Linked DNA regions of Homo sapiens. The protein of the gene in region 2 purifies or fractionates together with the protein of the main gene of each other region. This does not show direct contact. Each region holds a gene or a part of one and is shown on either strand. Other genes may lie near its edges. The genes, in order: NOTCH3, ZNF224 and LRP2.

Region 1 (3,657 bases), about 29 Mb from region 2:
ACTTCTTGTGCAAGCCCATGGAACGAGTTAGGGAATGAGCTGGGCTTAGAACCTTGGAGTCTGTGTGCTGCCTCTTTTTTTTTTTTTTTTTTTTTTTTTTTTGAGACAGAGTCTTAGCTCTGTCGCTGGAGTGCAGTGTTGCAATCATCGCTCACTGCAACCTCTGCCTTCTGGGCTCAAGCACCTCAGCCTCCCCAGTGGCTGCGACTATAGGCGCACACCACAGCGCCCAGCTAATATTTTGTGTTTTTTGTAGAGACGGAGTTTCGCCATGTTGCCCACGGTGGTCTCCAATTCCTGGGCTCAAGCAATCTACCTGTCTCCACCTCCCAAAGTGCTGGGATTACAGGCGTGAGCAACCACACCCGACCTAAGTGCACTGTCTTTGAGAGCAATCGAGTTAATATCATGTGCAAAGTATGAGATAAAAGGCCCCCCAGAGGCCGGGCGAGGTGGCTCACACCTGTAATCTCAGCACTTTGGGAGGCCAAGGTGGGCGGATCACCTGAGGTCAGGAGTTTGAGACCAGCCTGGCCAACATGGAGAAACCCCATCTCTACTAAAAATACAAAATTAGCAGGGCATGGTGGCGCATGCCTGTAATCCCAGCTACTTGGGAGGCTGAGGCAGGAGAATCACTTGAACCTTGGAGGTGGAGATTACGGTGAGCTGAGATTGTGTCATTGTACTGCAGCCTGGGCAACAAGGCATAACTCCGTCTCAAAAACGAACAAACAAACAAACAAACAAACAAAAAGGGGTGCTGCCAAACAGATAAATAACACAAGCCACATATGCAATTTTAAATTTTCTAGTAGCCACATTAAAAAATAAACAGAAATGGGAGATATTAAATTTAATATTTTATATTTATTTATTTATTATGTATTCAGAGTGAGGCTCTGTCGCCCAGGCTGGAGTGCAGTGGTGCGATCTTGGCTCAGTGCAGTCTCGAACTCCTGGGCTGAGGCATTCCTCCTGTCTTAACCTCCTGAGTAGCTAGGATTACAGGCACTCACTACATGCCTAGCTAATATTTTTATTTTAATTCTGTAGAGATGGGGTCTCACTGCGTTGTCTAGGCTGGTCTCAAACTCCTGGCCTCAAGCCATCCTCCTGCCTTGGACTCTCAGACTGCTGCCACTGTGCCTGACCAAATTTAATATATTTAAATTTAATTTATTGAATGTATATAATCGGCTGGGCGCAGTGGCTCACACCGGTAATCCCAGCACTTTGGGAGGCTGAGGCAGGTGGATCACCTGAGGTCAGAAGTTTGAGACCAGCCTGACCAACATGGAGAAGCCCCGTCTCTACTAAAAACACAAAATTAGCTGGGCGTGGTGGCACATGCCTGTAATCTCAGCTACTCAGGAGGCTGAGGTAGGAGAATCACTTGAACCCGGGAGGCGGAGGTTGTGGTGAGCTGAGATCGTGCCATTGCACTCCAGCCTGGGCAACAAGAGCGAAACCCCATCTCAAAAAAAATAAAAATAAAAATAAAAGTAAATAAATAAATAAATAAATAAATGTATATAATCTATTTAACCCAATATATTAACATATCATTTCAACATGTAACCAGTATAAAATTGTTAATGAGATATTTTACATTGTTTCCTTTTTTTTTTTTGAGACAAGTTCTCACTCTGTCGCCCAGACTGGAGTGCAGTGGTGCGATCATGACTCACTGCAGCCTTGACCTCCCAGGCTCAAGTGATCCTCCCGTCTCAGCCTCCCCACTAGCTGGGACTACAGGTGTGCACCATCATGCCCAGCTAATTTTTGTATTTTTTATAGAAATGGGGTCTTGCCATGTTGCCCAGGTTGGTCTCGAACTCCTGAGCTCAAGTGATCTGCCCACCTCGGCCTCCCAAAGTGCTGGGATTACAAGTGTGTGCCACCACGCCCAGCCTATTTTTTTTTTCATACCAAGTCTTCAAAATCTGAAACCCAGTATGTATTTTACATTTATAGCACATCTCCATTTAGTCACAATTTCAAGGACTCAGTAGCCACATGTGGCTAATGGCCACTGTCCTTGTCCTGTTCCAAGCACAGGAATTAGATCAGGCACAATTAGCAGCGTTTGCTTGGCAGCTTAAAGGGACCTTTTGGTTTTCCCAACATCCTGCCCTTGCCACATAGGTGAGGTTTCCAGATAAAGGAGGGGACGAGGCCACAGAAGGGGATGGATTTAGATTCCTCTGACCAAATGCACCCCATCCCAGTTGAACCTGGTTTCCTCCTGAATTCTTCTCAATCCAAGGCATATCCCAGTCAGACTGGGCTAATGGGGGCAAGGTAGGTGACCAGACCGCCTTCCTCCTGTCCGCAGACCCATGCCTGAACGGTGGCTCGTGCCAAGACGGCGTGGGCTCCTTTTCCTGCTCCTGCCTCCCTGGTTTCGCCGGCCCACGATGCGCCCGCGATGTGGATGAGTGCCTGAGCAACCCCTGCGGCCCGGGCACCTGTACCGACCACGTGGCCTCCTTCACCTGCACCTGCCCGCCAGGCTACGGAGGCTTCCACTGCGAACAGGACCTGCCCGACTGCAGCCCCAGGTGGGCGGGGCCTCTGCTTGGAGAGCAGGGACTCTGGCTTGGGATGGGGCCTGGGACCTGGGACGAAGTGGGGACAGCAACGACTTGGGGGAGTCCTCAGCTTGGTACCCACTGCGGACTCTGATGACTGATGGGGCAGGGCCAGGGAAGGAGCAGGGCGTCTGTTTGGAGCTCACCTTGGAGTCTCTGGTGCCTGAGAGGGCATGGCTTCCAGGTGGCTCTCACCTTAGGGCTGAAGTCCCTGGTGAATTGGAGCTAAGGGACCTGATTGGCTTCTGCTGGGGCTGCAGCTTCTTGCCGAGATAAGGGTCAGGGAGTGGGACGTCCCCAGCGCTAACAGCGGGACTCAGGAAGGAGGGCAGGGCCTGTGAGGGGGCGGAGCCTGATCCTCCCTCCCACTCCTTCCGCTCCAGCTCCTGCTTCAATGGCGGGACCTGTGTGGACGGCGTGAACTCGTTCAGCTGCCTGTGCCGTCCCGGCTACACAGGAGCCCACTGCCAACATGAGGCAGACCCCTGCCTCTCGCGGCCCTGCCTACACGGGGGCGTCTGCAGCGCCGCCCACCCTGGCTTCCGCTGCACCTGCCTCGAGAGCTTCACGGGCCCGCAGTGCCAGGTGGGTGGAGTTACTGGGGACCTGGGGGAGGAGCCTGCCTGGGATCCTAGGAGGGAGAAGCCAAGTCGGGGCACAGTTTCTCCCAGACTACCCCCCACCCCACAGTACTGACTCTGAGTGCTTCCCCTCCAGACGCTGGTGGATTGGTGCAGCCGCCAGCCTTGTCAAAACGGGGGTCGCTGCGTCCAGACTGGGGCCTATTGCCTTTGTCCCCCTGGATGGAGCGGACGCCTCTGTGACATCCGAAGCTTGCCCTGCAGGGAGGCCGCAGCCCAGATCGGTGAGTGGGAGCATGTGGGCGGGCGTGTGGGGCCTTGGGAAGGGGCTCATGCACGTACCTCCTGCTAGTGTGAGCCGAATGGGGGTGCCACAGAGCCTATGGGGCATGATGGGGTGTGTGGCTGAGTGGTGTGGGTGTGTGAGCATGTGACAACTGGCCGGGATGGTGTGTGTCTGTCACTGTGAGACAGCAGGGATG
Region 2 (3,140 bases):
AAAAGTCAGAGTAGCACAATCGAAACAATAAGTTGCATCCAATATCAAAAATGGCACACTAAGCATTGTGACATTTTCTTTGCTTGTAGGGGGGTGATAAGCCCTATTTGTTCTATACCTTAGAAAATATATCACTTTAACTTAACACACTTAAGATATTACTATGGTGTATACCTGATGAATTAACATCTGACAATAGTTTGAATATGTATCCCCTCCAAATCTCATGTTGAAGTATGACCTCCAGTGTTGGAGGTCGGGACTATTGGAAGGTGCTTGGTCATGGAAGCAGATCCTTCATAAACATTGGTGTCCCCACCATGGTAATGAATGAGTTCGCACTCTTAATTCACACAAGAGCTGGTTGTTTAAAAGATCGTGGCATAAAAAAATTAAAAATGCATGGAAGTATAAAATGGAAAAATGCCTGCAAACACTCATTGCCAGCAAAGATCAGTAAAAATATTCATTTACACAGTATGTAAACACTCAAAAGAACATAAAACACACAAAGATATTTATTTGATTAGGTTATGAAGGCTAAAAAAAGCCACATTGTTTTTCTCCTTTTGTTATTGTGTCTATGTCATCATCTCATTGAGTTCATATTATTATAGGAATAAATGCAATTCACACAAATTCCTGTTCTTGAACACTTGTTCTTTCCATTTTAAAATGCAGTGACATCATCAATGTGGTCTTCTACTTTTTGGAGTTTTAGTGTCATAGGCATAGTTTCCTATCCTATGGTTTTCATATCAAACAGTTGCACCTTATACATTCTGGCATGTTCTGCTCTCCAAAAGACATATTTTTACTGCCAGCAATAAAGAGGAGGATTTAAATGTTACTCCTGCCCCCAATAATGAATATATTTGATGAAATTACCAAACTCCATTTTCTCTTCCTGTTTCATAGCGTTGGTGGAAGAATATTGGATAAGAAGGTTGACAAAAGCTGTCATTCAAATTTAGAATATTTTATACCAGAGAAGTTAAAAAAAAAAAAGAAATTGTACAGCAATTAAAAGGCAATCATACCAAGGCCTGCATAGAAATCACAAATCATGATCAATCTAGGATTGACTAAGAAAATTTCTGTCAATGTACATCTGGCACTTTAAAAGTGTTACTGTAAATCTTGCCTTAATACTGTTGAAAACACTTAATTGTGAAATATGCAGTGGTCTGTTATTGCAAAATTAACCAAACCTTTTCAGTCTATACTGTGAGAAAAACTACAAAAGATAATTAAATTTATACCGTATACAAGCAATGGACATTTCATAGAGCCACAAATAATACTCTGACTTCAGAGCACAGGATGGGGGGAAGCCAGGAGCCAAGTGCAATAAAATAATGTTCAATGAATATGATAAATCTGATCAAGAAAAAAATTTAAAAGAAAAAATAATAATATGCAAAATATTGCTATGGATTGCAGTACTGAGTTTACTCTGCATTTCAACTCATGTTTCCCAGAATTATTTTTTGCAGGCTTCCCTTTTTGGATACACAAAATTGTATCCAAATCCATACATATGTTTTATCCTTTCATTGATTTAACAAACAAGTACTGAACACATACAAAGTGCTAATCAATGTTAAGGCTGTGACGACTTAGCAGCAAAGACACATGTAGTTTACATTCTAGTGGACATCAATTTGGACATGTCCACCATTAGTCTGGTAAATTCATGAACTCTTACTCTTTCTAAGGCCTGTCTCCTGAATGATAGCTGTAATTATCAAACTTCTGAATGAAGCTTTATTGCACCATTTACAAGGATTCTCCATTATGGTGGTCCTGAGACTACTGGGGCATGCTGAGCTATGGCTGAAGCACTGATGTTATCTTAAACAAATGTTTTCCCTCTTCCAAGAATGGGTGAAATTTATCACCAGCATGGATTCAGAGATAAAATACTCAAAGGGAAGTGCTTACTATGTGCCTCATATTTTAATGTGTCTCTCCTTTGTGAACTTTCAGATGAGACTGCATTCATGAAGACTGAGTGAAGACTTTATTGCACCATCACATCACTAAGGTTTTTCTCCAACATGAACATTCTGATGAAGTCGAAGGCTTGAGGCCTGACTAAAGCACATATCACACTCCCTACACTTCCATGTTTTCTCTCCCATGTGGACCCTCTGATGCATATCAAGATTCAAGCGCCTGTTGTAGCCCTTCCCACAGTCCTCACATTTGTATGGCTTTTCTACACTGTGAACTTTTTCTTGCACTTTAGAGAATGAATTCTGTACAATGTTCTTCCCATGCTGCTCACATTTGAGAGGTGTTTCTCTGCTGTGGCGTCTCTGATGGGTCAGACGAGTTGAGGACCAGCTGAAGCCCTTCCCACACTCATCACATTTGTATGGCTTTTCTCCAGTGTGCACTCTTTGATGAGAATGAAGCTGTGAATTCTGAGTAAATCTTTTCCCACACTCTTCACATTTGAATGGTTTTTCTCCACTGTGCAGTCTCTGATGTTTCAAAAGACACGAGGCCCAGCCAAAACTCTTCCCACATTCCTTACAATTGTATGGTCTCTCTCCTGTGTGGACCTTCTGGTGCATATCAAGATTAAACTTACTATTGTAGCCCTTTCCACACTTCTCACATTTGTATGGCTTTTCTCCAGTGTGAACTCTCTGATGGGAATGAAGATGTGAATTTTGAGTAAATCTCTTCCCACACTCTTCACATTGGAATGGTTTTTCTCCACTGTGGAGTCTCTCATGTTTCAAAAGACATGGGGCCCGACTAAAGCTCTTCCCACATTCCTTACAATTATACAGTTTCTCTCCTGTATGGACGCGCTGGTGAAAGTCAAGATCCAACCTCCTTTTGTAGCCCTTCCCACACTCCACACATTTGTATGGTTTTTCTCCACTATGGGATCTCTGGTGGGAATAGCATTGTGAATTTGTGTAAAATCCTTTCCCACATTCTTCACATTTGAATGGTTTTTCTCCACTGTGGACTCGCTGATGTTTCAAAAGACACGAGGCCCATCTGAAGCTCTTCCCACACTCTTTACAATTATATGGCTTTTCTCCCGTGTGGACCATATGATGCGTATAAAGATCTCGCCTACAAATAAAGCCTTTTCCACACTCCTCACATTTGTATGG
Region 3 (3,657 bases), on a different chromosome or scaffold from region 2:
GATCTAAGGGATTTTTATATATGAATAAAAGGAAGCAATTAAGAATTTGGCAACTAAAATTGCTCAGCTTCAAAGCAAATGAATGCTGTTCCATAGTTTATATTTTTATATCTCTTTCTCTTGAAAATTTAGAAAATTTCTAATGCAGAAATCAGGTGCAAATCTAAGTGTAAAAAAAACAAATCCACATAATTTAATATTTTAGCCACTTTTGTCTCCAGATTATGTTAATAACAGAAGAAAATGATAAGGATTAATTTGTTATAAATCTGTAAACTGAAACACCGTATCATTTATCAAATAGACACGTAGCTTAATCTAGATTCAATGTATCTTAAATGGTCTTAATAATTGTCTAGAAAAACAAACCTGTAGCACATGGAGTTAGGCTAAACTTTCTAGCATAAAATAAGATGACAGAGATGCAAACATATTAAAATCACCATATAGCTTACATACCTGCTACCCAATCCACTGCAATACCCCGGACTCCATTTTCTCCTATTCCATGTGTCACAATGTTCATCAGAGAAGATCCATCTGGTTTAATTCTACGGATCGCATTATCAGATGCCACTGAGCTGCTAAAATCACACCAATAAATAAAGCCAGAGGACACATCCACATCCACATGCAGTGCGTTTCGTCCTGGAAGTTAAGAAAAGATCATTAAAAAATGCTGTCACTGAAATTAGAACTTTTAAATGTCTGCCCTTCCTCTCAAACCCTCATTCCCAACCCCCTGCTCTGAGCATCTCCCCATTACAAAATGAAACCCTTTTTTCCCAGTTGCAGTGAGCAGACCCACATCTTGGTTTCTACTCTTTCCCACAATAAGGAGCTCTGGCTCCCGGGAGAAATGTTGATTATAGGTTTAGGCAGGGAAGGTACGAAGTGAGTGTGAAACATCTTATTGTACCAAGAAACAAGGCATACACAGAAATATACAGGTCGCCACTTGAAGAGGTTCTCCCTGGCCAAAATGGATCCACTAAAACATCAAAAGAAGGATTACAGTAATTGACTGTAACACACTGAATTTAAAAAATAAAAATTTGAGCCCATAATAATAATAAATTATTTAAAAAGTAAACCGGGGAGACACGAAGAGCTTTCCTTTATAGAAGAATATTATCTAACAAATGTAAAGGGAATGCTAAAATAAGAAAATCACCATTTTGCAATCCTCGATTAAATAATCATTTCAAACAAGGATCATCCATGGCTGCCAAAACCAATGGGTAAAAGGTGCTTGGGAGCCAAGACATTCACAGGGCCTAAGTGTGATTGCATAGATTCCACCAAAATTAAGAAGGAAAAAAAATACAGCTTTAAAAAGCAGCAGTGTAGCAGTGACCACCTTAACCAAGTGATCAAACTCAAATGCCACTAAGAGCAGGGCAAGCTGACATTATGTTCTTCCTAATAAGATTCTGTATCAACTAACACAGCATAACCTATAAAGTATTATTGCTAAATGTATTTAACCTTGATCTAATCAAGCAATTAGACCTAACTTCCATTTCATGAGAACTGCAGGGTAAAAAATGAAAGACAGACTAAATATTCAGACAAATCCTCAGTGTGGGATTCTCAAAGACAACAGGTCTGCCTCTTTAAAACATCAATGTCATAGCAAAAAGCTAGAGGCAACTACTCCAAACTGGAAGAAACTAATGAGATATTCCCAGTGCAGTGCATGAATCTTGATTAGATCTTGGATGGAACAAAACAGCTATATATAAAATATTGTGAGGCCAACTGGAGAAATATGATTATGAATATTTCATAATGCCCTTTGAAACTGTATGCTAACATATGTAGGGGTAAAGTGGCATGGTATTAAAATTTATTTTTAAAAGGTTCATAAAAAATGAATGTGAATGCATATGCATGTACACACACACACATACAAATTGAGAGCTCAAATGTGAAGAAATGTTAACAACTGTTAAATCTTGGTAAAGGGTATAAGGATATTTCCTAAATCTTTCAACGTTTCTGTGTTTGAACATTTTTTTAATGAAAAGCTGGGAGAAAAAAACTATTGAATTTGTCATATCTGTACAAGATGATAACTTAGATCCATAACTTTTTAGATATGGAAAAACAAAGATGAGTCATGGGTCCACGTGAACATGACCATCAGGCAGGAGGACGTGTGGGACTGGAAGCTCTCTGATTCCCTTCTCCAGGTGCATTTCTGTATTTTCTGACCATCTCTACAACCCCTTCATTGACTTCATCCTTTTTTCCTTCCTTTCTACCCTCTATTTCTCTCTTTAGCCTGTGACATTCTCCTAGCGATGTTAGAAAACTCTTAGTTCCTCTTGTGCTAAGGTATACCTAAAAACCTTGGCTCATCTAGGAAGCAAGTGATCGTTTCATACATTCACAGTATGTAAGCACAAAGTGCTGCAAAAATATGATTACTAAAGAGGGACTGACACTGTGAACTCTTTTGCTTCAATTCACCAAATATATATTAATAAATCATATTTGTGGACTATTTCATTACCATATTAAATAGTAGTATACCTTCTACCATAAATCTCCATTAATAATCAGAAATAGGGCACAGTTCTTTGGAACACCAACTCTGTAGTACTTCTTGCAAACCCATCCTACATTCTATATTGCTCTGGGCCTGTGGTTCTTAGCGTGATCCATGGGCCAGCACCGTCAGCATGCCCTGGGAGCTTATTAGGAGTGCAGATTCTCTGGCCCTACCCTAGACTACAAAATCAGAAAAATCTGGGGACGAGGTCTGGAGCTGTGTTGGCGTGAGCCCTCCAGGTGATTCTGAGACACACTAAAGTTTGAAAAACACTTTAGGCTGTGCCAGTTGATTTAAAGGGAAAGGAAAGCTTCATTATGCACTGAATCCACACATGAAGAAATGTTTTCATGGCACCAGGGATTTCAACCTGGTGCCAGATGAAGTCAAATCTTACTTATATTGGAGTTGGCATACCTTGGCCTGCCACCGGCACCATGGTTTCTGAATGATCTGACAATTCCAAGCTAAAGCCTCTGATTGCAGACAGCATTGAAACAACAATGAAAGAGTTATATGGAGAGCAGGACCGATTATCAGGATTGAGTTTAAATCCAGTGGCACAGGCGCAGGAAAACAATCCTCCTGGTACAGGCAGGCAAATCTGCTGACAGGCATTCATGTTGTTGCTACAGCCATTTGAGGATTCGGCGGCATCTAAATGAAAACAAAATCCATTTGTAACTTTTGATCCTAGCTACTCGCCACCCCATCTCAAATTTCTTTAATTGGGTCACCAAATAATTTATTCTAAAAATTAATAACCAACATATAGTAGCTGAGTTAGCAATCTAAAAACAACATCGGAGAGACTAGAGCTTATACAATAACACCTAAAGGTATGAAACCAGTAACCCAACTATTGTATAATAGTTAGAGAATGGGGCTTCACTTGTTTTCTTCTACAAATCATGCGAGGATTAGGGAGGTCAGTATATAAATCTGCTCATAATTTGCCTATGAACTGGCACTTAAAATAATATGTTCAGTTACATGATCAATAATGTGATTTTTTTTAAATATATGAAATAAGATTTAAAGAATAGTCCTGGAATTAATGGCATTCCCAGTGACTTGGAAGAAACTGGAGACTATTATTC

Evidence for each region.
Region 1: the proteins of ZNF224 (region 2) and NOTCH3 purify together in Homo sapiens (affinity purification with mass spectrometry; 2 studies listed by BioGRID and IntAct, with this or other methods). This does not show direct contact.
Region 3: the proteins of ZNF224 (region 2) and LRP2 purify together in Homo sapiens (affinity purification with mass spectrometry; 2 studies listed by BioGRID and IntAct, with this or other methods). This does not show direct contact.

What each region holds. Positions count from the first base shown.
Region 1 is NC_000019.10:15,180,483-15,184,139, reverse strand, and holds part of NOTCH3 (neurogenic locus notch homolog protein 3 precursor), read left to right. Parts: intron 1-2,338; coding exon 2,339-2,564; intron 2,565-2,977; coding exon 2,978-3,179; intron 3,180-3,311; coding exon 3,312-3,459; intron 3,460-3,657. UniProt on the Homo sapiens protein: Functions as a receptor for membrane-bound ligands Jagged1, Jagged2 and Delta1 to regulate cell-fate determination.
Region 2 is NC_000019.10:44,107,187-44,110,326, reverse strand, and holds the end of ZNF224 (zinc finger protein 224), read right to left. Parts: coding exon 2,043-3,140; 3' UTR 501-2,042; downstream 1-500.
Region 3 is NC_000002.12:169,208,994-169,212,650, forward strand, and holds part of LRP2 (low-density lipoprotein receptor-related protein 2 precursor), read right to left. Parts: intron 3,215-3,657; coding exon 2,975-3,214; intron 649-2,974; coding exon 460-648; intron 1-459. UniProt on the Homo sapiens protein: Multiligand endocytic receptor. Acts together with CUBN to mediate endocytosis of high-density lipoproteins. Mediates receptor-mediated uptake of polybasic drugs such as aprotinin, aminoglycosides and polymyxin B.